7 linked regions of the Homo sapiens genome follow. The protein of the gene in region 7 purifies or fractionates together with the protein of the main gene of each other region. This does not show direct contact. Each region holds a gene or a part of one and is shown on either strand. Other genes may lie near its edges. The genes, in order: LARP1, OAT, HACD3, GPATCH8, NBEAL2, ZRANB2 and CSNK1G2.

Region 1 (3,500 bases), on a different chromosome or scaffold from region 7:
GGTTTCATAGGTGACCAGTGAGATTTGGTGGTTTGTTTTCGTATCATTTGTTATTATAAGCTTATGGGCTCAAACGTATTTATTTTGGTCCATTGCAGTTAATGGATTGGATCAAATTGTCCCACCTTTGGTCAGTGGGACCCTATACATTTCCTGCCCCAGATCTGGAATTGGCCACTTTTAAAAGGAATTCTAGTTCCTTTCTTTTGGGAAATGGTATTTAGATACCAGTCTGAGTTATAGGGGTGCTTTATTGCTACTTGGTTGGTCATTCTTTCTAGATGATTTTTTTGTTTTTTGGTGAGATAAAATACATCATGGAGTTATTCTGTTTTGTTGTTGTTGTTTTTTTTTTTTTTTTTTTTTTTTTTTTTGAGACAGAGTTTCACTCTTGTTGCCCAGGCTGGAGTGCAGTGGCATGGTCTCAGCTCACTGCAACCTCCACCTCCCAGGTTTAAGCAATTCTCCTGCCTCAGCCTTCCAAGTAGCTGGTATTACAGGCATGCACCACCACACCCAGCTAATTTTGTATTTCTAGTAGAGATGGGGTTTCACCATGTTGGCCAGGTTGGTCTCGAACTCCTGACCTCAGGTGATCCACCCACCTCGGCCTCCCAAAGTGGTGGGATTACAGGCATGAGCTACCGCGCCCGGCCTGTTCTGGTATTTTCTATTAAAGGGTCTTTACGTAGACTTGTGGATCTTTTATTTTACCTACTGCTTTCTTCCATGCCCATAATCTTAATTCCTAATGATACCAACATAATTACTCATTTTGTTTTATTTCACAGTATGTCTACCGTCTTTTTTTTTTTTTTTTAAACATTTTTTAAAGAGAGAGGGTCTTGCTCTCACAGGCTAGATTGCAGTGGTGTGATCATGGCTTACTGCAGCCTCAACCGCCTGAAATCAGGCAATCCTCTTGCCTCAGCCTCCTGAGTAGCAGGATTACAGGTGCACACCACGTGTGGCTAATTTTTAAATTTTTTGTAGAGATGAGGTCTTGCAGTGTTGCCCAGGCTGGTCTGAAATTCCTGGGCTTGAGCCATCCTCTCACTTCGGCTTCCAAAGTGTTGGGATTACAGGCGTGAGCCATTGTGCCAAGCTCTACATTCTTACAATACCTCCACTACCACTGAAAACAGTTTTTCCACTTATACAGTATCTTCAAGTCATTTGAAAGAATCTTTGTGTGGTTTCACATTTAAATTGATATATATATTAGTTTTATTTTGCTTCCAAGTTTTAGAGATTGCTTTCTCCCTACCCCTATAATTTTCTAAGTTGTTTTACATTTGTGTAAAACATTTACGTGGTTCTAGAGTCTCAGCATGGTATAGTCATAGAAGTCTGACTTAAATTCTGTCACTTACACCCTTTCTTCTCTTACAGGCAAACTTTTTAGAACCTTTCCATTTAAGAAAAAAGCAAATGCCTCTACATGTATTTGTATCCTTGGTAAATGGAAATATACAACACATGGCATTTCTTCAATTCTTTTTTGTTTTAACTTAATATATCTGGGAGCTAACTGCAAAGTAGCAGTATATAATAGAAAGATATTCCTCATTCCTGTGTACAGTTGCATAGTTCACCATTGTGTGGAATGCTCCATGTTTTTTCAACTGCTGCTCCTATAGATGGATGTTTTGGTTGTTTTTTTGAGACTAGGTCTTGCTCTTTTGCCCAGGCTGGAGTTAGTACAGTGGTGTTATCAAAGCTCACTGCAACCTCAACCATCTAGGCTCCCAAGTAGCTGGGACCACAGATGTATGCCAGCGCCACCTTTTTACGATTTGTAGTGATAGAGTCTCGCTATTTTGCTCAGGCTGGTCTTGAACTCCTTTGCTCAAGCGATCTACCCACCTTGACCTCCCAAAATGTTGGGATTACAGGTGTGAGCCACTGTACCCAGCCTGCTTTTTTGATTAATATTTTGTGGGTTTATCCACCTCAGCACATGTAAAGTTGGTTGTTTTTTTGTTTGTTTGTTTGTTTGTTTGTTTGAGACGGAGTCTCGCCCTGTCGCCCAGGCTGGAGTGCAGTGGCACCATCTCGGCTCACCACAACCTCCACCTCCTGGGTTCAAGCGATTCTCCTGCTTAACCTCTCGAATAGCTGGGACTATAGGCGTGTGCCACCACAACCAGCTAATTTTTGTATTTTTAGTAGAGATGGGGTTTCACCATGTTGGCCAGGATGGTCTCAATCTCTTGACCTTGTGATCTGCCTGCCTGGGGCTCCCAAAGTGCTAGGATTATAGACGTGAGCCACCAGGCCCGACCTGTAAAGTTTTTTAATGTCTGAGTAGTGTTCCATCATGCATATGCTGTAAATATTTAAATTGCCTATGCGATGGCAAGTTAGGTATTTTATAGTTCTTTTTCTACTCTAGTTTTACTGTGAATGGCTTTTTGTCCAGATATTATACATACTGCTCCCTGTTTGTGCAAGTGTTCTCTAGAGCAGATTACTGGAAGTAGGATTGCAGGCTCAAAGAGTAAAAGGGTAGGTGTATTTATTATGCTGGTACCTCCTACAAGTTTGAACATCTCACATTATCTACCAGTCGTGGAAGATGGTGTCAATTTTCTTATATTACTGGTAGCATTGGACTCATACCAAGCTCAGGGGAACCCAGTTGTCTACCATTTCCAAGATCTTTCTGTCCAAGATTTTCTTCTTAATCCCCTCTTCCTTCTCCTCCCCTTCAGGCCCTAAAGGACAGCAAGGTGGTGGAGATCGTTGATGAGAAAGTTCGTAGGAGGGAGGAACCAGAAAAGTGGCCTCTTCCCCCAATAGTGGATTATTCACAGACTGATTTCTCCCAGCTTCTCAACTGCCCTGAATTTGTTCCCCGTCAGCACTACCAAAAGGAGACAGGTAGGTACCTGCTGGCATGAAGATTGCCCTTGTCCTCTGGGCAACAGTCCTCCTCAGGGCTGGCATCAGGAGGAGGACTGGAGGGATGAGGACTTCCCCTTTCCACCCTTTAGAGTCGGCACCTGGCTCTCCTCGTGCAGTCACCCCAGTGCCAACCAAAACAGAGGAGGTCAGCAACCTAAAGACACTACCCAAGGGCCTGTCTGCCAGCCTGCCTGACCTGGATTCTGAGAACTGGATTGAAGTGAAGAAGAGGCCTCGGCCATCCCCAGCACGGCCCAAGGTGGGTGAGGCCTTGTCCCTTGCCTTGGTTCTAGCACTCTGAGCTAGGGTGCTTGAAGGGGATAACACATGGGCACAGCACTCTAGCTCTGAGGGGCCAGCAGGAAATCTGGGTAGTTCAGGATCATAGTGTGAGTTGAAGTTACCAGTAGTGGCTACAGAAAGGTTGATTTGGCTTGTTTCCATTTCCTGTGGGGAACCACCCTTTAGGGCGCCCTACTGTGTGAGTTCCTCGGTGACATTTTTCTTAAGGGATCATGCAGCATCTGGCAGCGATGTTTCTGGCTTCTTGATTCTTGGCTCTTCTTTTTGCTCCATCTAAATTTCTGGGGCTG
Region 2 (4,051 bases), on a different chromosome or scaffold from region 7:
TCTCCATCCCTTGTGGTTTACTTGCCTACATTGATTGATTGATTGGTTGATTAAGATAGATGGTCTTGCTTTGTTGCCCAGGCTGGAGTGCAGTGGTGCAGTCATAGGTCACTGCAGCCTCAACCTCCTGGGCTCAAGTGATCCTCCCACCTCAGCCTTTGGAGTAGCTGGGAACATAGGTGTGCCACCACACCAGATTAATTTTTATTTTTTTTTGTGGAGACGGGGTCTCACTGTGTCGCCCAGGCTGGTCTGGAACTCCTGGGATCAAGCAATCCTCCTGCCTCGGTCTGCCAAAGTGCTGGGATTACAGGCATGAACCACGGGCCCCCACCACCACGTTTTAGGAAATGTTCACATTGGAGTGTGCCCTCTGTTTCCAGCTGGGCCCCCGACTGGTCATTGTGGTCTAATGGAGTGTGGTGCCGGCAGCTGCCAGCGCCTGCCCTCTGAGAGGGGTGGCGAGGGGCACACAGGACCAGACTGCCCCTACTGTTGGATGACTGGGTAAGTCGCTTTCCTTCTCTGGGTCTCTGTTTTCCAATATTTAACATCTTGTTGTGGGCTAAGTGAAGTCCAAGTCCCTTCCGATTCTAACATGAGGTTGTCCCGGAATATCTATTTTGTGTTCTGAATTTAATAACCGGCTGTGGAGGGCACCACAGGCAAATCTGTACTGTGAGTGGGTTGCTGCCACTCAATTATCTGACAGCAGCTGCGAACAGGTGGGCAGTGTGTTTTCCATAGGCAGCGACGACTTTTGGAGGTGGATTCAGAGGCACAACTAAGCCGCGCGGCGCATCAGGGTTCAAGGGCATGGGGCTCCCGCAGCTGTGGCTGGGGCAGAGCTGGGGCTGGTCCCTCCCTCCAGGAGCACAGGGCGGGCGGTCCAGCCTCACGTCTCTCGGCCTCCAGCCACACCCGGCCCGCGCAGTGGGGGGCCCAACAGACTTTTCCTTTTCGGGCCTCAGTCTTCTCGTCAGCAAGGGCGGACAAGGACTCTTCTCGTCCCGCCAGAGGAGGCGACCGAGGGGCCTGAGCTCAGGTACAGGCCGGCGGGCTCAGGAGGCGCGAGCGCGGATCGAATCCGCGGGAGGAGCAAAGATCCTTGATGCGCGGCCGGAGGGCGGGGCGGAGGACGGGACCCACGCGATTGGTATCCTGCCCTCCGCCCCAGCCAATGAGCGGCGAGGGTGTCTTGGGGGCGGGGCAGAATCAGCCTTTAAGTTGCAGTGACTCTCCGGCGTCACTGTTGCGCTTCATAGACGCCGCGTGTACCCGGTTGTCCTCAGGCGCTGTCAGGTACCGTCTGGGCGCCGCTGTCCTGGGGCTCTGGTTCGGGCCCTGGCCGGGGTTCCCTGACAGCGGCGGGGGAGGCGGGCGGGCGCGGGGTGGCCGCGGCCCGGGTTCGGGGGATGCTGGCTGAGGGGGCGCGCTGGGCCTCGGCCGGGGAACGAGCCCCGCTTCAGCGGCCCGTTTACTCTGCGGGCGGCTCGGACCCGGGCGCCCTGGAGTCTCCGGCCGGCGCGCAGCTTCAGGGGGCAGGGGCGTGGCGACCCACGGCTTGCAGGCCGGAGTCCTGGTTCCAGCCCAGAGCGGCCGACGGGCGGGCGGCAGGGAGAGGCTGAGGATGTGGCAGCCCCGCCTGCCAGACCGGGCGGAGCCGCCGCCCCCTGCGCTCGCGGCCTGTGGAGGCCAGGACTCGGCCCACCCGGCCCAGAGACCCCGAGGCGCCCCGGGGTTCCGGGTAGGAGGCCTTTGGGCACCCTTGGTTCCTGGGGTTGGCGGGGAGGCTGCGTTCTGGGGACGGGGGAGCTGTGCAGTAAACCGGTGGCCCTGGTCACGCGGCGGGGGCGCTGATGCAGCCTTGGAGGGCTGGGTCCTCCCGGCCTGCTCCTGCGCCCTGCAGATCGGCCTGCCCATCGCTCCCCTCTTCCAGCCTATGATTTTTTTTCTCCAGCCTCTGTCGAAATAAAGAAAATTACGGAAGCAGAACCTTCCTTACAGTAACGTGCAGGTTAATTAGATGGTGGGGGATGGGGGGGCAACAGGACTTTCAGCATGAAAACCTCCCGTTGGGGGCTTTTTGCAAACCCTGCTGAGCATCAGTAAATGGGCCTGGCCAGTGCGTTTCCTCGATCGCCTTCCCGGGCGGGACGGGAGGGGTCATTGTCCGCCCTTTGCTGGCGAGAGGACTGAGGCCCGAAGTCACCTGGGCACTCGCCCTGTGACCCACCGTCTCCTTTTGTCACTCTACATCTTACCTTTTCGGTGTTCAGTTTTACCTCTTAGATAAATTACGGTGATAAATTAAGGGCGAACAGACAGTGACTTTGGAATGAAGTGGCTTTACCTTAAGAAATGACTAATGTTCAGTTTCCAAATTCTAAATTTCTCCTTCTGGGATTGAAAGGGTTTCTGTGGATAAGCTAGTTCTTTCAGTTAACCCCGGAACTGTTCTTTAGATTGTAATCAATCGCTCTTAGCCATGTGAAATAACAATAGACTCCTTTCATTAGAATATCCTGGTTCTGTCTTTAGATGAATCTTTTCATAAAAACGAGCGTTAAATTAAAAAGCTTATTTTTAGCCCGGCACGGTGGCTCACACCTGTGTAATCCCAGTATTATGGGAGGCCCAGGCAGGCGGATCACCTGAGGCCAGGAGTTTGAGACTAGCCTGGCCAACATGGTGAAACCCTTTCTCTACTAAAAATACAAAAATTAGCCAGACATCGTGGTGCGCGCCTGTAATCCCAGCTACTCGGGAGGCTGAGGCAGGAGAATTGCTTGAACCCGGGAGGCAGAGCTTGCAGTGAGTTGAGATCGTGCCACTGCACTCCAGCCTGGGCGACAGACTCCGTCTCGAAAAAAAAAAAAAAAAAAAAAAAAGCTTATAGTTTTGGGTTTACAGTTTTTCATGGTGTTTAAGATTAGTTTTGCATCCCCCCCCCAAAGAAAAATCCAGTATAACTTTAAATAGTAAACATTTTTAAAAGACATTTTTCCCTCAAAGCAGCTGTCTTAATATGTATTATCCCCATAGCGTGCCTTTATTACAGTTATTTGTGTGCATATTTTATGCCCTTTAGTGAGTTCTTGAGGACCTTTCAAATCTCAAACATTTACAAATAGTGATGAATGCACGAATTTGGATGTGTGTGGAGGATGTGCTGTAGTTGACCCCGGTCCTTTCTCAGTAGTAAAACTAGTTGTTTGCCAATGATGCACTTGGCTTGAATTTTAGCCAGAATACTGATTACGTCAAAGAGACTTCTGTTGGTAGAACTTTTTTTTTTTTTTTTTTTTAAAGGCCTGTATTTGTGAATGGTTACCTCAGGAAAAGTAAATATTTGTCAAAATAGCAAGAACAAATTTACTCCTCAAGTTGAATATTTTAAGTGGCTTTTGGACAACTTTACGCCGACTATTCTTTTAGAGTAAGAAAATAGTTTTTAAGAGTATAGGCTAAATTAACTTCAAAATGCAGCCTTTTGTGGAAATTCTACTGTAGGTATGTTCTAATGTAGATGGATGGGCTAGATGGAGGGAGTAATGGTAGCCTGAAGGACCCTGTTAATTACGTGGATAAAACCTTCAGTGTTAGAATTCTAGCTTGCCAAGAGCAATTTGTTCTCATTTCCAGGACCTGAGTATGGGCGTCAGGTAGATGCATGATAGCTGCCTGGAACACATTATTTTGACCTTTGAAGGCCATTAGATCTAATGAAGTAAACTCTTGATGAAGAGATGAGTTATTCTAGATGAGGTCAGAGAGTGAACACCCCCTCTTAGAGTTAGACTCAACCTGGTCAGGGATAGGTGATCCCATGGTCTTGATCACTTGCTACCTTGACTCCCTCAGGAGTCCTAAGTAAGACTGACCTCTTTATCTGATAAAGGCCCACAGGATGCCCAACCTGGGCTAGGTTCTAGGAATGCAAAGTGAATTTTACTGTTTTTTAAAGGAGCTTAGAGTATAGACTTATAGGCATAAAAACAAGTGGCCTGCAGTGTTAGGACCCGTTACAAGTCTGCACAGTCCCTGGGAG
Region 3 (3,500 bases), on a different chromosome or scaffold from region 7:
ATTCTCCTACCTCAGCCTCCCGAGTAGCTGGGACTACAGGCATCTGCCACCACGCCTGGCTAATTTTTGTATTTTTAATAGAGATGGGGTTTCACCATGTTGTCCAGTCTGGTCTTGAACTCCTGACCTCAAATGATCTGCCAGCCTCGGCCTCCCAAAGTGCTGGGATTACAGGCATGAGCCACCGCACCCAGCCATTATGTGTATTTTACCACAATTTTTAAAATGGGAAAAAGAAAAAAGCAAAAGGTCGAGAATATTCTTTAAAGACGAGCTCAAATTGGGGACTTACCCTATAAAAAATCAAGACAGTATAAAGATTTAGTAGCTAATACCACGTTGTATGGTACAAAGATAGTCACACAGACCACGGGAACAGAATAAAACCCAGAAACAGACAACCCAGATATCTATGAAGAATAGAATGTCTATCATATATTGGAATGTCTTGCCACGTGAAAATGAGTGGACTATAGCCACATGCATCAACATAGATGAGTCTTGGCCGGGCGCGGTGGCTCATGCCTGTAATCCCAGCACTTTGGGAGGCCGAGGCGGGTGGATCACAAGGTCAGGAGATCGAGACCATCCTGGCTAACATGGTGAAACCCCGTCTCTACTAAAAAATAGAAAAAATTAGCTGAGCGTGGTGGCGGGCGCCTGTAGTCCCAGCTACTCGGGAGGCTGAGGCAGGAGAATGGCATGAACCCGGGAGGCGGAGCTTGCAGTGAGCCAAGATCGTGCCACTGCACTCCAGCCTGGACGACAGAGCGAGACTCTGTCTCAAAAAAAAAAAAAACAAGACCAAAAAACATAGATGAGTCTCTGGCCCGTAACTCTGAGTAAGAAGTAGTCACAGAATGATACATATAGAATGATTTCAGAAAGTTTTAAAACAGGCAAAATGAAACAATATACTGTTCAGGAATACATACACAAGCAGTAATTCATAAAGAAAAGCCATGGGCCAGGCACAGTGGCTCATGCCTATAATCCCAGCACTCTGGGAGGCTGACGCAAGAGGATCACTTGAGCCCAAGAGTTTGAGCAAGCTTGGCCAACACAGTGAGACCCCGTCTCTACAAAAAAATAAAATTAGCCAGTGTGGTAGTACACACACCTGTGATCCCAGCTACTTGAGAGGCTGAAGTGGGAGGATTGCTTGAGCCCAGAAGTTCAAGGCTGCAGTGAGCCATGATTGCACCACTGCACTCCAGCCCGGGTGACGGAGCGAGACCCCGTCTCGATAAAAAAGAAAAGCCATGGAATTATTAACACATGATAGTAGTTATTTATAGGGGTCCCACGTTTGTAGTGCTCTATTTCTTAACTTGGGTTATATAAACTCAAATGTTTATTTGGCAGTATTCTTTAGACTGCGTTTGAACATGTGTCTGTATTTTAAAGAAATGATTTATGATATAGTTACACAAAATACTGTACCTGTCTAGTCACAAAGACTGGTTTGGGCACTTTACTTGTTCCAGAACTGGAGCAGGATTAAACTGGTCGAGGTCAATCTTTTCTATTTGCCTTGCATTTAGTGGGGTTAGATTTCAGATAACACATTTCTATAACTTTACATATATTTTATTAACTTTTTTCTCTCTTTTGGGTCTTTCTAATAGCTTCTTGGAAGAAATTTTATTTTGTTTATCATCTTTGGCACCATGGAAGAAATGCAGAACAAAGCTGTGGTTTTCTTTGTGTTTTATTTGTGGAGTGCAATTGAAATTTTCAGGTGGGTAGAAATGCCAGGATGGTGTTTGAATGCTGCTCCCTGTTTGCAGCAGCTCTGTTCTTGAGGGAGTTGTTATCTTAGCCAGAGTCTCATTTGGTTTGGGACTAAGATTACATATGTGGAGAATTCTGGTTGCACCTATGTGCTCTGCAAAGTTGAGACAGATTTTTTTAAAGCCGTCATTGGATCATAATACCAGACTGGATACTAGGGAGCAGAAGAGGAGAACCAGAGAAAGGGAAGACTCATCTTACCATGACTTCAGGATCTTGCAGTCTTGGAAAGAGAGGACCCATCCACATGGAAAAATTCTTGAAAGGGCTGAAGAAACAGGAGGTTGAAGGAGCAATCCAGGTTGGATAGAACTAATTTAAGACTAAATTTCTACAAGGGATGATAGAAATGAATCTTATACCACAAGATTATTGAAGTTTGAAATGGCCTCTAACCCAATTTTCCCGTTCTCGGTTGTTAGTAGCATAAATATCTTTTAAGAAATGGATCTAGTTAAAGTAGATGTATTCTTCTTTACCAGACCATACACACTCCATATGTCTTCCCTTTCAGTCAGCTGGAGCAAGGATTTTGCAAATGAACTTCTCAGCTCCAGGTTTGGTGGTATTTTGACAAAGTTGCTAGTTGAGAGAGAGAACAGGCCATAGCAGCCTTAAATTGTGTCTTAACCATGGTCTGTGTCCCATGGCACCCAGTGTACCCTCTAATAGCCTTAATACAAAGGTAAAACAGATTATAGGTCCTATGTTTTTCAAATCAGACACGTAATGTGCTGATGTAACAAGGTTTGAGGGAAGCACATCTCACACAGGAGAGTGAAAATCCAGTTATCACACTTATGAGCTATAAAAGGATCAGATTATGGGTCCTTAATGCAATGTTTACTGTTTGAGAAGGAACATTTATTTTCTCAAGGGATGTCTTTTAAAATAGCATATGTCTGATTCTAGATTAGAGGTCTTCTGTATACTTTAATTTTGGTAACAACTCACTTATCCAGAAATAAAGTATCTAATATCCTTACCCACCGGGAATGTATATCAGCACTAGGAATAAAGCCAAAAAACATCTGAGTATCCAGTCCGTTTACCGAATAAAGAGGGTTCCTTTGAGACCTAAACTTAGTCTGCCATTAAAGAGCGTTCAGATCCTTTGAAAATTTAGGGCGCAGTGTGGCAGGAGTTTATGGGTTGATAGCCAGCGTTATAATTCTGTTCTGAAGAAGCCATGTGTGGCTGAGAAATAGAATTCTTCTATTTAAATGATATTCTAAGGTTGCATTCGGAACCTGAAGTGGCTTTTCACATTGGAATCATTTATTTTCAATAGGTACTCTTTCTACATGCTGACGTGCATTGACATGGATTGGAAGGTGCTCACATGGCTTCGTTACACTCTGTGGATTCCCTTATATCCACTGGGATGTTTGGCGGAAGGTACTCTCAGGGACTCTTAGCTTTCATAGCTTAGCTCCAGGGGGTACCCAGAGGCTGAGAGACCAGTCCTTTCTTCCCCGGCCTTAGTCCGATAAATGGAAATGTTGGATTTTTCAGGGATTTCTTTCCATGGGCTTCCTTCCATAATACTCCTGGTACCCAGACTGTTCGAGAAAAGTAGCTCATTTTGTAACATTGGAAAGCCAGGTGGTTATGTCCTGCATGCTTCCCATTTGTATGATGCTTTTAGTATTCCAAAGGGGGTTCTTACTGATGACTTTATTTTATTCTGACAAACATCTCATACA
Region 4 (3,500 bases), on a different chromosome or scaffold from region 7:
TAATGGTGTATTACATTGTAGTGGTGTATTACATTGATTGATTTTTGTATGTTGAACCAACATTGAGTTCCTGGGATAAATCCCACTTCGCCTTTTAATATGCTGTTGAATTTGGTTTGATAGCATTTTGTTGAGCATTTTTGCATCTGTACACAGAAAAGATATTAGTCTGTAGTTTTCTTGTAATGTCTTTGTATCAGGGTAATACTCAGAATAAATTAGGAAGTGTTCCTTCCTCTTCTATTTTCCCTTGCATTTTAAAATGGTTTTTTAATGTGTTTTGTATCCTAAATATGTATTGCTTAGTTTTATGTAGTGGGTGGGTGGGTGGGTCGGTGAGTTGGTTGGTTGGTTGGTTGGTTTTGAGACAGTCTTGCTTTGTTGAGACAGTCTTGCTCTGTCGCCCAGGCTGGAGTGCAGTGGCACGATGGCTCACAGCAACCTGTGCCTCCCGGGTTCAAGCAATTCTCATGCCTTAGCCACCCAAGTAGCTGGGATTACAGGCGTGCGCCACCACGTCCAGCTAATTTTGTTTTTTTTTTTTAGACGGAGTCTTACTCTGTCACTCAAGTTGGGGTGCAGTGGCACGATCTCAGCTCACTGCAGCCTTCACCTCCTGAGTTCAAGCAATTCTTGTGCCTCAGCCTCCCGAGCAACTGGGATTACAGACACGTGCCACCATGCTCAGCTGGTTTTTGTTTGTTTGTTTGTTTGTTGTTTTGTGTGTGTGTGTGTGTGTGTGTGTGTGTGTGTGTGTTTAGTAGAGACGGGGTTTCACCATGTTGGCCAGGCTGGTCTCGAACTCCTGACCTCAGGTGATCCACCTGCCTTGGCCTCCCAAAGTGCTGGGATTACAGGCGTGAGCCACCACGTGGCCTAGTTTTACATGTTTTTTAACTTTATATAAGTGGAATCAGTTTTCTTGTATATATATATACACACAAGATTTTCTCCAGAGTGTGACATTTATTTATTTTCTTGTTTCCATTGCTGTAAGGGGTTAAACCTGTGTTCAAGGAATACACATAGGCTTAACTTCTTAAAGCAATATACTTTAGCCTCTGTATAATGTTGTCATTATCCTTTTTTACCTTAAAATTCTGCAGCTTCAGATTCATGGAAGGGTCTTTTAAACATTTTTGTTAATTCTTAGCTGTATTATACTGTGTTGATATATGTTGTGCATATTACTTCTTCATTTCTGACTTTATTACAGTTTCTTCTATAGCCTATAATGGGCTTTTTGTCTGTGTAAATATTCTTTTTTTTTGAGATGGAGTCTCTGTCGCCCAGGCTGGAGTGCAGTGGCGCCATCTCGGCTCACTGCAAGCTCCGCCTCCCGGGTTCATGCCATTCTCCTGCCTCAGCCTCCCGAGTAGCTGGGACTACAGGTGCCTGCCACCACGCCCGGCTAATTTTTTGTATTTTTAGTAGAGACAGGGTTTCACCATGTTAGCCAGGATGGTCTCGATCTCCTGACCTCGTGAACCGCCCACCTCGGCCTCCCACAGTGCTGGGATTACAGGCATGAGCCAGCGTGCCTGGCCTTGTCTGTGTAAATATTCTATGAGTACTGTTTATTTGAGATAGGGTCTCACTCTGTCACCCAGACAGGATCTCACTCTGTCACCTAGAAGTGCGGTGGCAGTGATCACAGCTTACTGCAGCCTCGACCTCCTGGACTCAAGCGATCCTCCCACCTCAGCTTCCCGAGCATCTGGGGCTACAGGTGCATGCCACCACACCCAGCTAATTTTTATATTTTTTGTAAAGACAGGGTTTCACCATGTTGCCCAGGCTGGTTTTGAACTCCTAGGCTCAAGCTGTCCACCCACCTCAACCTCCCAAAGTGCTGGGATTACAGGTGTGAGCCACTATGCCTGGCCTCTACAAGTACTTTTTTTTTTTTTAATTGAGATGGAGTCTCACTCTGTTGCCCAGGCCAGAGTGCAATGGTGCGATCTCAGCTTATTGCAACCTCCACCACCCAGATTCAAGTGATTCTCGTGCCTCAGCCTCCCAAGTAGCTGGGATTACAGGCGCCCACCACCACACCTGGCTGATTTTTGTATTTTTAGTAGAGACAGGGTTTCATCACGTTGGTCAGGCTGGTCTCAAACTCCTGACCTCAGGTGATCCACCCACCTCGGCCTCCCAAAGTGCTGGGATTACAGGAATGAGCCACCGCACCCAGCCTACGAGTACTTTTTGAAGGACTTCCCCAGCCTTCCAAGTAACTGGGACTACAGGTGCACACCACCACGCCTAGCTAATTTTTTGTATTTTTGGTAAAGATGGGGTTTTGCTATGTTGCCCAGGCTGGTTTCAAACTCTTGAGCTCAGGTAATCCGCCTGCCTCGGCCTCCCAAAGTGCTGGAATTACAGACATGGGCTACCACGCCTGGCCTATTTTATTTTTTAAGTTATTATGTGGTCTCAAAGTGGGAAATAAATGGATGGATGGATGGATACATGGATGGATGGATGGATATAGGATGGATTATATTTGTGTTGTTCTAGTTACCTTTATAACTTAATGAAATTACCCATGTTTGAGTGTCCATTATTTTCGTACTATAAGCAATAAAAAGCTAGCTTGTTTTCTCTTCTTTCCTCTTCCATTTTAAAAACTCTATCATATAATGTTAATAAGTAAAATGGCCATTCTTAGTATGTGGCTTCATACCATTTAATTATTATATTATGTACACTACTTCTATTACTTAATAATTTTCATGTTTTGTAAAGTTCTTTTTACTTCTATTGAGTTTGCAGAAGTAAGCAAACTCAAATTCATATCTGCTTCTGCCTGCCCACCCAGTTTTTTATTATTTGTATCATTTCTATTTTCTGACAGCATATAACATACATAGTTATATGTATATGTTACAGTTATATGTATATACTTTAATAGCCCTATTTCTTTTAACCTTAGTTATAGGAGTAAATGGTTTTAAAGCAGTCTGCCAGTTCTTTTGCTGAGTTTTCTTCTATTATTTCTGAATTTTGTACCCTATTAACTTACTTAAAAGTGGTTGTGCAAACAGTGTTTCTTGAATTATTTATATATATATGTATTTTATATAAACATAAGCCTATAAAAATAATTCACATCCAGCCTTGGGCACCATGATGAAACCCTGTCTCTACGAAAAATACAAAAATTAGCCAGGCATAGTGGCATGCCCCTGTGGTCCTAGCAACTCAGAAGGCCGAGGTGGGAGGATTAATTGAGCCCAGGAGGTCGATGCTACAGTGAACTGTAATTGCACTACTGCACTCCAGTCTGGCCAATAGAGCAAGACGCTGTCTCAAAAAAAAAAAATAGTAATATTAATTTAGGCAATTACATATATATCAACTTATGTATATGTGTGTATATATGTACACATACATATAACTCCATATATACGTGTATGTATTCCCTATATTTGAAAGATACATATAAAATCCTAAGTTAATTCTTTCCTTAGATATCTTATAGTATTTATTGTACCACT
Region 5 (3,500 bases), on a different chromosome or scaffold from region 7:
GGGGTCTCTCCTGTGGTCAGGCAGTCTCTGGATGGGGTTTGGCCAGAGGCCTAGCAAGGTCTGAAGCCCCCTGCCCACCTCCCAGGGCCCAATGAGACGGCACCCTTCAAGCCTGAGGGGGAGCTGCATGAGCTCAGCACCAGGCTGCTCCTCCATTACTCACCTCAGGTATTTGGGGGCCCCAGGGGAGTGGTTGGCTCGACTGTGCTACTTCCCCGGCTCCCACACTCTGCCTGCCACCCCCTCCTCCCTCTGACCCTGGCTGCCTGCCCATTCCCCTATCCCTAGGCTTGTAAGAACAACATCTGCCTGGACCTGTCCCCCAGTCATGGGCTTGATGGGCGCCTGACGGGCCACAGAGTGGAGACCTGGGATGTGAAGGTCTGTGAGCACGTGTGGGTGGTGTGTGCAGGAGGCATGAATATGGGGCACATGTGTGTTCGGAGTCAGCTGGGGAGCAGCGCTGTGCCTGGGGAGGATTTGGACAGTCCAGCTCAAGAGAGCAAAACTTCCTTTCTGGGTGGTCTGCTGGGGTGGAGTAGGGCAGGAAACTGGCTGGAAGGTCCCCCTCACTGCCATCCTCCTTCCCCCAGGATGTGGTGAACTGCGTTGGGGGTATGGGTGCCCTGCTGCCCCTGCTGGAGCGAGTAGCTGCACAGCCCAAAGAGGCTGAAGCAGGTCCAGCTGAAACGCATGACCTCGTGGGTCCTGAACTGACCTCTGGTCACAACACCCAGGGCCTGGTTCTCCCATTGGGTAAATCTTCAGGTAAGTGTTCCTGGTGCCTATGTTGTGGAGAGGGAATCTTGGCATGGTAGGGGGGTGGAATGCCCAAGGTCTCCTGGCCACTGGCAGGCCCTTGACACACATCTGTCCCCTTCCTGATGGCTGGCAGAGGAACGGATGGAGAGGAACGCAGTGGCTGCTTTTCTGCTGATGCTGCGGAACTTCCTTCAGGGTCACATGGTGAACCAAGAGAGCCTGGTGCAGTGCCAGGGGCCTGCCATCATCGGGGCCCTCCTGCGAAAGGTGGGGCCCGGTGGGACAGGCATGGGGGTTAGGGGTATGGTCAGCCTGTCTGACCGAGGGGACTGAGTGGGGAACCCTGTCAGTCATGAAGAACCTCCTGGGAGAGTTGCCACTTGAGTGGGGCCTGAAAGGCCGAGCAGGGTTGGGTCTGGAGGATCTGGGGAAAGGCCCAGCACAGGTCGGGGCAGGGACCCGCACAGCAGGCAGGAGGCTTGCGTGTCAGAGGCGGCAGGAAGCCCCCAAAGGGTTCTGAGCAGGCTGGTGGCCATGTTTGTGGCCGTCATGGCTGTGCAGGGAAGAGTGGCAGCTGAAAAGCTCAGACAGCAGACAGGCAGAGCCTGAGCCCTCACTCCAGCTCCTGTCTTATCCCAGGTCCCAAGCTGGGCCATGGACATGAACGTGCTCATGTCCGCCCAGCTGCTGATGGAGCAGGTGGCAGCTGAGGGCAGCGGGCCCCTCCTGTACCTACTCTACCAGCATTTGCTCTTCAACTTTCACCTCTGGACCCTCAGTGACTTCGCCGTGCGCCTCGGTAGGTGTGAGGACCTGAGCAAGGGGCCGGCCATAGGGCAGCTGAGCACTGAGAAGTTAGAACTCTGCTCTGGGGGATCTGAGGGACTCACCTGTTAGGAATCCAGAATGCCATGGGGCGGCTGAGGGGACTATGACCCTGCCCTGGAAGTCTGACAGGCACATGGCCCTGGCCTGGAGGATCTGAAGGGCCCAGCTCAGCCTAGTGGCCTGAGCCCTCTGCTCATTCCCGCTCAGGTCACATCCAGTACATGTCCAGCATAGTTCGGGAGCACAGACAGAAGCTGCGGAAGAAGTACGGCGTCCAGTTTATCTTGGATGCTCTGCGCACCCACTACAGGTGAGGCCAGTGGGGCCAGATGGGCCATGGGGGGCTGACACAGTGGCCTCCGGCCTTGGGGACTGGGCGGTGCGCTTCCCTGACTCACCTGCCCACCCTCTCTCCCCGCCTTTCTTTGGGACCTGGCTGGGTGTGCCTACTGACCTGCCAGCCCGCAGCGGGAGCGCCCCCTGGCTGCTGACGACCTACGCACCGTGCAGACCTCCCTCCTGGGCCTGGCGAGGGAGTTCCTGGTGCGGAGTCTCTCAGCAGATGACGTGCAGGTCACGCAGACCATGCTGAGCTTTTTGGCGGCCACAGGCGATGACGGTCAGGTAGGCTGGAGGTTGGGGAGCGGGAGGCTTGGGTGAGGGGAGTGGGGGCCCGACACAGTGTGAGACCCTGCATCCCCAGGCGGTGGGTGCGCTGGACCTGCTGCTGGCCCTGCTGCACGGTTCCCTGGTGCAGGAGTCCTTGGCTGTCTTTCTGTTGGAGCCAGGGAACCTCGAAGTGCTACTGGCCCTGCTAGTGCGGCCAGGGTCACTGCCCCTGCTGCCCGATCGAGTCTGCAAGGTACACCCAGCCCACCCCCTCCCCTGGCATCCCATTCACTGGGGCCCCTGCCTGGGGTTCAGGGAGGTACAGCAGGCCTTGGGCCAGCGGATGAAGCTGCCTTCAAGGGCCTCTTGAGCCACACACCTGCACGGTGACTTCCCCTCCTACAGTAACTCCTTCCACATGATGACAGTCCTCCGATGACCCCCACACAGATCCTGCGCAGACTGCAGCAGAATGAGCGGCTACCTGAGCGGAGCCGCCAGCGCCTCCGGCTGCGGGAGTGTGGTCTCCAGGGTCTGGTTGCCTGCTTGCCTGAGGGGACTGTTTCCCCCCAGCTCTGCCAGGGCCTCTACAAGCTGTTCCTGGGGGCAGGTACAACCTGGTTAAGGCCAAGTGGAGGGGGTGACATGTCAGAAAAACAGGGCAGGCAGGCCGGAAGAAGGAAGATAGTGGCATAGGGGCCAGGGCTGGGCCCTGCCCTTTCTAGTCTGGTCAGTCCCTCAGGTCCCCCCAACCCATCCCCCCAGATTGCCTGAACCTCTCAGATCTGCTGGCTGTGGTACAGCTGTCCCTCCAGGCTGACCTCAGCGTTCGCCTAGACATCTGTCGCCAGGTGAGCATGAGAGGTAAAAGCTTTGGGGGAGGGGGAGGGTGGCTTCTACCCTCTGGCCTTCCACCTTGCCTGTCTCATGAGGGGTCTCTGGAGCCCTCCTCTGCAAAGGCCCTGGATGAGGGTCTGGAGCAGGCAGTTGGATGCGTCCTCACTTGCTGTGCTCTCGCCTGCAGCTTTTCCACCTCATCTACGGACAGCCAGATGTAGTGCGGCTTCTGGCCCGACAGGCTGGCTGGCAAGATGTGCTGACCCGGCTATATGTCCTGGAGGCTGCCACAGCCGGCAGCCCCCCTCCGTCTTCCCCAGAGTCACCTACCTCCCCCAAGCCAGCCCCACCCAAGCCACCCACTGAGTCACCTGCTGAGCCTTCAGATGTCTTCCTGCCCTCAGAGGCCCCCTGCCCTGACCCTGATGGCTTTTACCATGCTCTCTCCCCATTCTGCACGCCCT
Region 6 (3,500 bases), on a different chromosome or scaffold from region 7:
GTCTAATTATAGGTAGGTTTCTTAATGATTTTTATTTTCAGGCTTAGATTTAATTCTTCATTGATTTTTCCAACTTCCATCTTTTCTCTATGCAGATGAATCCTATGTGTATGAAAGAGGTCTAAATCAAAAAAGTATTAAATAAATTTCTCTTTTTGTTTGTTTGTATTTTTTGTTTTTGAGATGAGGTCCCACTCAGTCACCCAGGCTGGAGTGCAGTGGGGCGATCTCAGTTCACTGTAACCTCTACCTCCCAGGCTCAAGCAATCCTCTCACTTCAGCCTCCTTAGTAACTGGGACCACAGGCCCATGCCACCATGCCTGGCTCATTTTTTTATATTTTTGGTAGAGACAGGGTTTTACCATGTTGCCCAGGATGGCCTCGAACACCTGAGCTCAAGCATTCTGCCTGCCTTGGCCTCCCAAAGTGCTGGGATTACAGGCGAGGCATGGGCCACTATTCCTGACCCTAGAGTCTTAAATAAATTTCTGATCCTCAGGATTATAAATTTGTATTGGAAAAGTTTCCAGCTACAGATTTGGTCACTGGATTTGGTATGCTTTGGAATTCAGTGCTTGAACTGAGACCTCAAAAAAATAAATTAATATTATTTATAGGGTATAACCATACTCTTTAAGGTATATTCAGAGACTGAGAAATTAGTGGAGCTGTTAATTTAAAGTTATATTTTTTCATAAGACATCAGAATTTCTATACAGGTTCAGTATCACTTACCTGAAATGTTTGTGGGTTCAGCATCCCTAATCTGAAAATCTGAAATGCTCCTGTGAGCGTTTCTGTTGAGTGTCATGTCCTCTCTCAAAAAGTTTTAGATTTTGGAACGTTTTTGGATTTTGGATTTGTGGATTAGTGATACTCGACCTGTGGTTATAATTTGTCATTTACTTCTCAAAATGACAGAGGCACTTTTCATACTATATAAATTTTGCTTCTCTGCTTAAATGGTTCAGTCCGTTGTTGGAACCCACATTTACTCTTCAGGCCACTGTACATTTTCTTTGTTTACATTACCACTTAATAAACATTTCTTTGACAGTGGTTTCATCCTAGTTTTTATTTTAAAATTGTAAAATATCTAAAAATTTGATATTCATCTATATTATAGCCTACTAATTTAGTATTTTTCACTTCTAAAGTTGCAGCAATGTGAATTGGGCCAGAAGATCAGAGTGTAATATGTGTAATACTCCAAAGTATGCTAAATTAGAAGAAAGAACAGGTATGATAAAACCACATTGTAACTAAATGATTTTTTTTAAAGCACTAAATATTGAAACGATAATTGTATCACCTTCGAGTAAGAGCCACAGTAAGTGAGGATTCTGTTTATTCTGCCCTGAATGTTTGTTACTGGGATTTTTTTCCCCCCATACACACATACAAATCTTTTGTTTCACAATTTATAAAATAACAGTGTTAGGGACCTTTATCCTAACAAGGAGGGACATAAGAATACTTTCAGAAATATTCTCCTCCTCTCCCTTTCACTGGTTTGCATGTTTGTTATTAGTAATGATATAATGATACCATTTTTAAATTCTTTTGATAGCCTGCTGTGACTTAAAGGGCAAAGCCACACCATTTAAAGTGTTCTTCTAAAGCTTTGGCAGTAATTCTGAAACTTAAGCTATGTGCTAGATTATCTGAAAAACTTTTTCAAATATCGATTGCAAAATGCAGAACTGTTAAAGTTATTTGGCGGTGGGTTTCCAACATCTGCAGGTTTTTTGGATGGTGTTTGATAATCATTGGCCTAAATAATAGTTGATCATTGGCTTTGTATGTTACTGGTGAAATGAAAATGTTTACCTAATAGCATATAGTTTTTCCATTATCACCAATTAGCCCAACCACATTATCTGTTTACTTAAAATCTGATTTTGTCTTTCAACTGCTTATATGTCACATGATCAAAGGATTCCTTCTATATCTAGTCACCCTGTCAGACTTAGGCTTGGTGAACTGCTTCCCTGTTTTCTTTGCCTCTCTAACTTTAGGCCGTTTTCATTGTCTGTTTAGTTTCTAGGGATCAGAGGGCCACTGTTCAATCTTTTCGACCTAGCTCTTCCAGACTTCAACAGAAATTCTACTTTTATCCCCCCCCACCCCTTTTTTAAAACTTACATTCTCATATGTGAGAACATTATAACATAATGTCCTTGATCCCCCCTTCCCCAGCCCAACCGCCACTTTCAACCCTCAAATCCTGCCTTATTCTTAGGAAGTGATTTTGCCTTTCCACCGATTGGGTAAGTTAAGGCCTTCTGACAAGGATCTCGTTTTTTTCTTCCCTCACCTAAGGTATGCACCGTACCTCCTTCACCGCCCCCACCAACCCCCGTTTGATTGATTGTTTATTCTGTCTCCTTTGCAGGTTTCTCTTCTTTTGGCCACTGATGTTGGGATTCTTCGCAGCCATCCCTGGCCCTCTTTCTTTCCTCTATTTTCATGGTGTTTTCTTCTAAGCCCAAAGTTTAAGTAACTTTGCCATGATAACCCAAGTTTATGTCTCCAGCTCAGACTTCTTTGACCCATATATCCAGCTGCCTATTCAACATTGCCATGCAAATGTCAAACTCATTATATTCAAACTGAATTTGTGATTTTACCCCTGGGACCTGACCCTCTTCCAATGATCTCTTTCTCATGATTAGTACCACTCACCATACATTTATTACATAAGCTGGAAATCTAGATGTCCTTCTTAGCCTAAATAGCCCTTTCTTGATATCTCCCATACCCCAAAAATTCTTTTCCATTACCACCCTAGGCAAAGAATTACTATGTTTTGTGGAAAAATAGCCACCTAGCTGGTTTCTACATGTTTTTATTTCCAAATTTAAAATCCTTTTTTAAAAAACCCATTTTGATTGCTTTTAGGATAAAGTCTAAAATCTTTTTAACAGTTTCAAAACTTAAAAAAACTTTGACCTATTTCCTGACTCCTTTATAGTTTCATTATCACAAGAACTATAGTTTAACAGAGAAGTAAGCAAATTTTATTTGATAACTTCTCACTTTTCTTATTGTCATTTTTCAGTCATTCTGGTGTCTTGAACCTTTCTCACTTCCCTTGCTACAAGTATTTGTCTTTGCTGGTAACAGTTGAAGGTGTGAAATAACTTACTCTGTTGCTTTCCGCTTTCTTTTGGCTATTTGTAATAAAGCAGTGCAGGGTTTGGGGAGCATTTCCTAAGCATGAGACAGGATATGAATAAAAGAGAATGTGATTCACTACCTCTGAAAGATTGCTGCTGGCTTATCCTGCATAATTCCATCAAATTGTTCAGTAATTTACTTCTCTGTTTCAGGATTTAGGATTATTTTTGTTTTTGTCAGCTTTTTTTTAAAAAAAAAACCATTAAAGATAATGGCATAAAAACAAACTTAGTACATTGTGATTTTTATTCTTTTGGATTCTTTCCTTAGAATATGTTCTCAGGAGTTGAATTAATTGTTCAGGGTGTAGAATCACAGA
Region 7 (2,667 bases):
GCCGCGACGACCTGGAGGCGCTGGGCCACATGTTCATGTACTTCCTGCGCGGCAGCCTCCCCTGGCAGGGGCTCAAGGTGGGCGAGGAGGCCGGGCAGGCGGGCGGGGACGCAGGGCGGGAGCAAGGCTGACCACAGACCCCCGCAGGCCGACACGCTCAAGGAGCGGTACCAGAAGATCGGGGACACCAAACGCGCCACGCCCATCGAGGTGCTCTGCGAGAACTTCCCAGGTAAGGGGTCCCTGCGCCCCCGCCCTGTGCCCCCCACCCCCCACCCCCCACCCCCACCCCCGCCGAGGCCCCGCTGGCGCTCTCTCTGCAGAGGAGATGGCCACGTACCTGCGCTATGTGCGGCGCCTGGACTTCTTCGAGAAGCCCGACTATGACTACCTGCGGAAGCTCTTCACCGACCTCTTCGACCGCAGTGGCTTCGTGTTCGACTATGAGTACGACTGGGCCGGGAAGCCCCTGGTAGGTGGGGGGGTGCCGGTATGTGGGAGCGGGGGACCGGGAAACTGCCCTGAGGGAGATGGGAACCGGCGCTGCAGCCCATCCTGACCCCTGCTCCCTCACCCACAGCCGACCCCCATCGGCACCGTCCACACCGACCTGCCCTCCCAGCCTCAGCTCCGGGACAAAACCCAGCCGCACAGCAAAAACCAGGTGAGGCCCGGGCGGGACCGACCGCCCCAGGGAGGGGCATGGGCGGCCAGCGTGACCCCCTACTGCCCCCACCAGGCGTTGAACTCCACCAACGGGGAGCTGAATGCGGACGACCCCACGGCCGGCCACTCCAACGCCCCGATCACAGCGCCTGCAGAGGTGGAGGTGGCCGATGAAACCAAGTAAGGCTCTGGGGCGGTGCCTTCGGGGAGGTGGGGGTGCCCTGGGTCCCCATGGGGGTGGGAGGGCCTGAGGCCTGGGCTGCCCCCGCCCTGCACCCCGGTCCTCCTACCTGAGCCACTGCCCTCCTCAGATGCTGCTGTTTCTTCAAGAGGAGAAAGAGAAAATCGCTGCAGCGACACAAGTGACCCTGGGCGCGTGCAGCCCCCTGAATCTTCTCCGTGCAGCCCCTTGGGGCGCGACCTTGTGCGAGGCCCTCGGGGCCCACCCACAGCGGCCCAGGGCCAGACCCTGGCTGGAAGCCAGAACGCAGACTGCAGGGGCCGCGCCTGGCTCAGGCGGCCCCACCCCCGGGACGTGGGGTCACTTCCTTCATGTAAGACTTTGGCCGAAATTTCTACACCTGTGTCTAGTCCTCCCCTCCAAGAGCATTAACTATTTAAAACAAGGAAAAGAGGAAAAAAAAAACAGAGGCCCGCCCTACCCCACTCCTGCCCCTCCGTTTCTTTGCTGAAGTGAGTAGTGTGATCCTGGAGGCCCCCCGGCCTGGCCCCGCCCCGCCAGCCGCCCCCGTTAGCGTCATAAAGTCCAGCTTGTCTCCCTCGATCCAAAGGCCGTTTTCTCGAGGGGAGGGCAGGCCCGGCCTGGAGGGGTGCTGTGGAGCTGTCTTGCCCAGGCCCTCCTGGGAGGGGGACAGGCATTGTTGCCAGGGGTGAGGCCGTGCCCCAGGCCTCCCCGAAACCAAAGGGGAAGGCAGGGGTGGGGCCGTGGCTGAAGCCGGCTCCCCAACCAAAATGCTGCACCAAAGCTCGGGCGCCGCGGGCACGGCTGCTGCAGTCTCTTCCCAGCCTGGCCCTGGCAAGGGGCGGGTGGGCGCTGCCAGGCGGGTGCTTCTCGACGCACTTGCTCCCGGAGGCTGCGCCCCGGCGCCTGGAACCCGAGGTGGGAGGACCGGTTGGTGTCACCCTGCTCGGCCCTCAGCCCTGCCGCGTGGGGCGCGTGGGCACGGAGCTTCCTGCCTCTCTGCTCCGACACCCGGCAAGCAGCCGGAGACAAAACGCCTTAAAGCCCCCGGCCCAGCCCTGCAGGTATATTGCAGGGGCCTGGGGGCGGCCCTGGACTGGCGGGCGGTTCCCCAGTGGGGTGCCCTGGAGGCTGCCGGGCAGAGTGGAGCAGCTTGGGGCCGTGCCCAGGGCGGTGGCTGTGAGTCTAGTTTTTGCTTTACCAAGTGTACAGAAATGGCATTTACGTTTCTCTGATGCTCCCTTGAAGCCATAGAATTTAGGGGCTTTTTTAAAAAAATAAAAGAAAAATGAAACCAAACCCAAGTGTAGAGGGATTTGTCTGGGCTTTCCACGAAGCTTGACCTGGAACGGGCGTTGCTTCCATCCCCATCCTGCCTGTCCGGGACGAGTCCGGAGCGGCTGGCGGCCTCCGGTAACAGAAACCGACTGATGAGGCGGAAGGTAAGGAAGATGGAAGCAGAGGGCAGAGCTGGGCTCTGTCTGGGGAGAGGGCAGGAGACGAGTGTTCACGTACCATGGAAAGGGGAAGTCACACACATGCGACTTGGCCCCGGGGGTCCCGTTCCCCGACACTACACAAATATACCTGAAAGCCTCAGCGACGGGGCCCAGGCAGGATGGTCCTGGCTGCTCTGACGGCGGAAGGCCTCCTTGACTCCCTCTGTTCACGCAGCAGGGCAGAAAACATCTCCACGGGGGCCACGACACTGTGAAGGGAATCAGCAGTAGCTCCCAGAAGAACAGCGGAAACTGCAGGCAGGTGAAGACCTTGGCAGCACTAGCCCCGGCTCCGCCCCG

Evidence for each region.
Region 1: the proteins of CSNK1G2 (region 7) and LARP1 purify together in Homo sapiens (affinity purification with mass spectrometry; one large-scale study listed by BioGRID and IntAct). This does not show direct contact.
Region 2: the proteins of CSNK1G2 (region 7) and OAT purify together in Homo sapiens (affinity purification with mass spectrometry; one large-scale study listed by BioGRID and IntAct). This does not show direct contact.
Region 3: the proteins of CSNK1G2 (region 7) and HACD3 fractionate together in Homo sapiens (co-fractionation; one large-scale study listed by BioGRID). This does not show direct contact.
Region 4: the proteins of CSNK1G2 (region 7) and GPATCH8 purify together in Homo sapiens (affinity purification with mass spectrometry; one large-scale study listed by BioGRID and IntAct). This does not show direct contact.
Region 5: the proteins of CSNK1G2 (region 7) and NBEAL2 purify together in Homo sapiens (affinity purification with mass spectrometry; one large-scale study listed by BioGRID and IntAct). This does not show direct contact.
Region 6: the proteins of CSNK1G2 (region 7) and ZRANB2 purify together in Homo sapiens (affinity purification with mass spectrometry; one large-scale study listed by BioGRID and IntAct). This does not show direct contact.

Annotation. Positions count from the first base shown.
Region 1 is NC_000005.10:154,796,877-154,800,376, forward strand, and holds part of LARP1 (la-related protein 1), read left to right. Parts: intron 1-2,714; coding exon 2,715-2,883; intron 2,884-2,996; coding exon 2,997-3,166; intron 3,167-3,500. UniProt on the Homo sapiens protein: RNA-binding protein that regulates the translation of specific target mRNA species downstream of the mTORC1 complex, in function of growth signals and nutrient availability.
Region 2 is NC_000010.11:124,416,124-124,420,174, reverse strand, and holds the start of OAT (ornithine aminotransferase, mitochondrial isoform 1 precursor), read left to right. Parts: upstream 1-1,251; 5' UTR 1,252-1,302; intron 1,303-4,051. UniProt on the Homo sapiens protein: Catalyzes the reversible interconversion of L-ornithine and 2-oxoglutarate to L-glutamate semialdehyde and L-glutamate.
Region 3 is NC_000015.10:65,568,463-65,571,962, forward strand, and holds part of HACD3 (very-long-chain (3R)-3-hydroxyacyl-CoA dehydratase 3), read left to right. Parts: intron 1-1,628; coding exon 1,629-1,741; intron 1,742-2,510; exon of another isoform or gene 2,511-2,611; intron 2,612-3,085; coding exon 3,086-3,192; intron 3,193-3,500. UniProt on the Homo sapiens protein: Catalyzes the third of the four reactions of the long-chain fatty acids elongation cycle. This endoplasmic reticulum-bound enzymatic process, allows the addition of two carbons to the chain of long- and very long-chain fatty acids/VLCFAs per cycle.
Region 4 is NC_000017.11:44,426,907-44,430,406, reverse strand, and holds part of GPATCH8 (G patch domain-containing protein 8), read left to right. Parts: intron 1-3,500.
Region 5 is NC_000003.12:46,996,666-47,000,165, forward strand, and holds part of NBEAL2 (neurobeachin-like protein 2), read left to right. Parts: intron 1-85; coding exon 86-168; intron 169-288; coding exon 289-381; intron 382-593; coding exon 594-768; intron 769-895; coding exon 896-1,029; intron 1,030-1,401; coding exon 1,402-1,561; intron 1,562-1,797; coding exon 1,798-1,900; intron 1,901-2,051; coding exon 2,052-2,214; intron 2,215-2,293; coding exon 2,294-2,452; intron 2,453-2,604; exon of another isoform or gene 2,605-2,634; coding exon of another isoform or gene 2,635-2,649; coding exon 2,650-2,809; intron 2,810-2,964; coding exon 2,965-3,050; intron 3,051-3,223; coding exon 3,224-3,500. UniProt on the Homo sapiens protein: Probably involved in thrombopoiesis. Plays a role in the development or secretion of alpha-granules, that contain several growth factors important for platelet biogenesis.
Region 6 is NC_000001.11:71,074,536-71,078,035, reverse strand, and holds part of ZRANB2 (zinc finger Ran-binding domain-containing protein 2), read left to right. Parts: intron 1-1,158; coding exon 1,159-1,241; intron 1,242-3,500. UniProt on the Homo sapiens protein: Splice factor required for alternative splicing of TRA2B/SFRS10 transcripts. Binds to ssRNA containing the consensus sequence 5'-AGGUAA-3'. May interfere with constitutive 5'-splice site selection.
Region 7 is NC_000019.10:1,979,172-1,981,838, forward strand, and holds the end of CSNK1G2 (casein kinase I), read left to right. Parts: coding exon 1-77; intron 78-147; coding exon 148-232; intron 233-323; coding exon 324-472; intron 473-580; coding exon 581-664; coding exon of another isoform or gene 665-739; coding exon 740-846; intron 847-977; coding exon 978-1,032; 3' UTR 1,033-2,167; downstream 2,168-2,667. UniProt on the Homo sapiens protein: Serine/threonine-protein kinase. Casein kinases are operationally defined by their preferential utilization of acidic proteins such as caseins as substrates. It can phosphorylate a large number of proteins. Participates in Wnt signaling.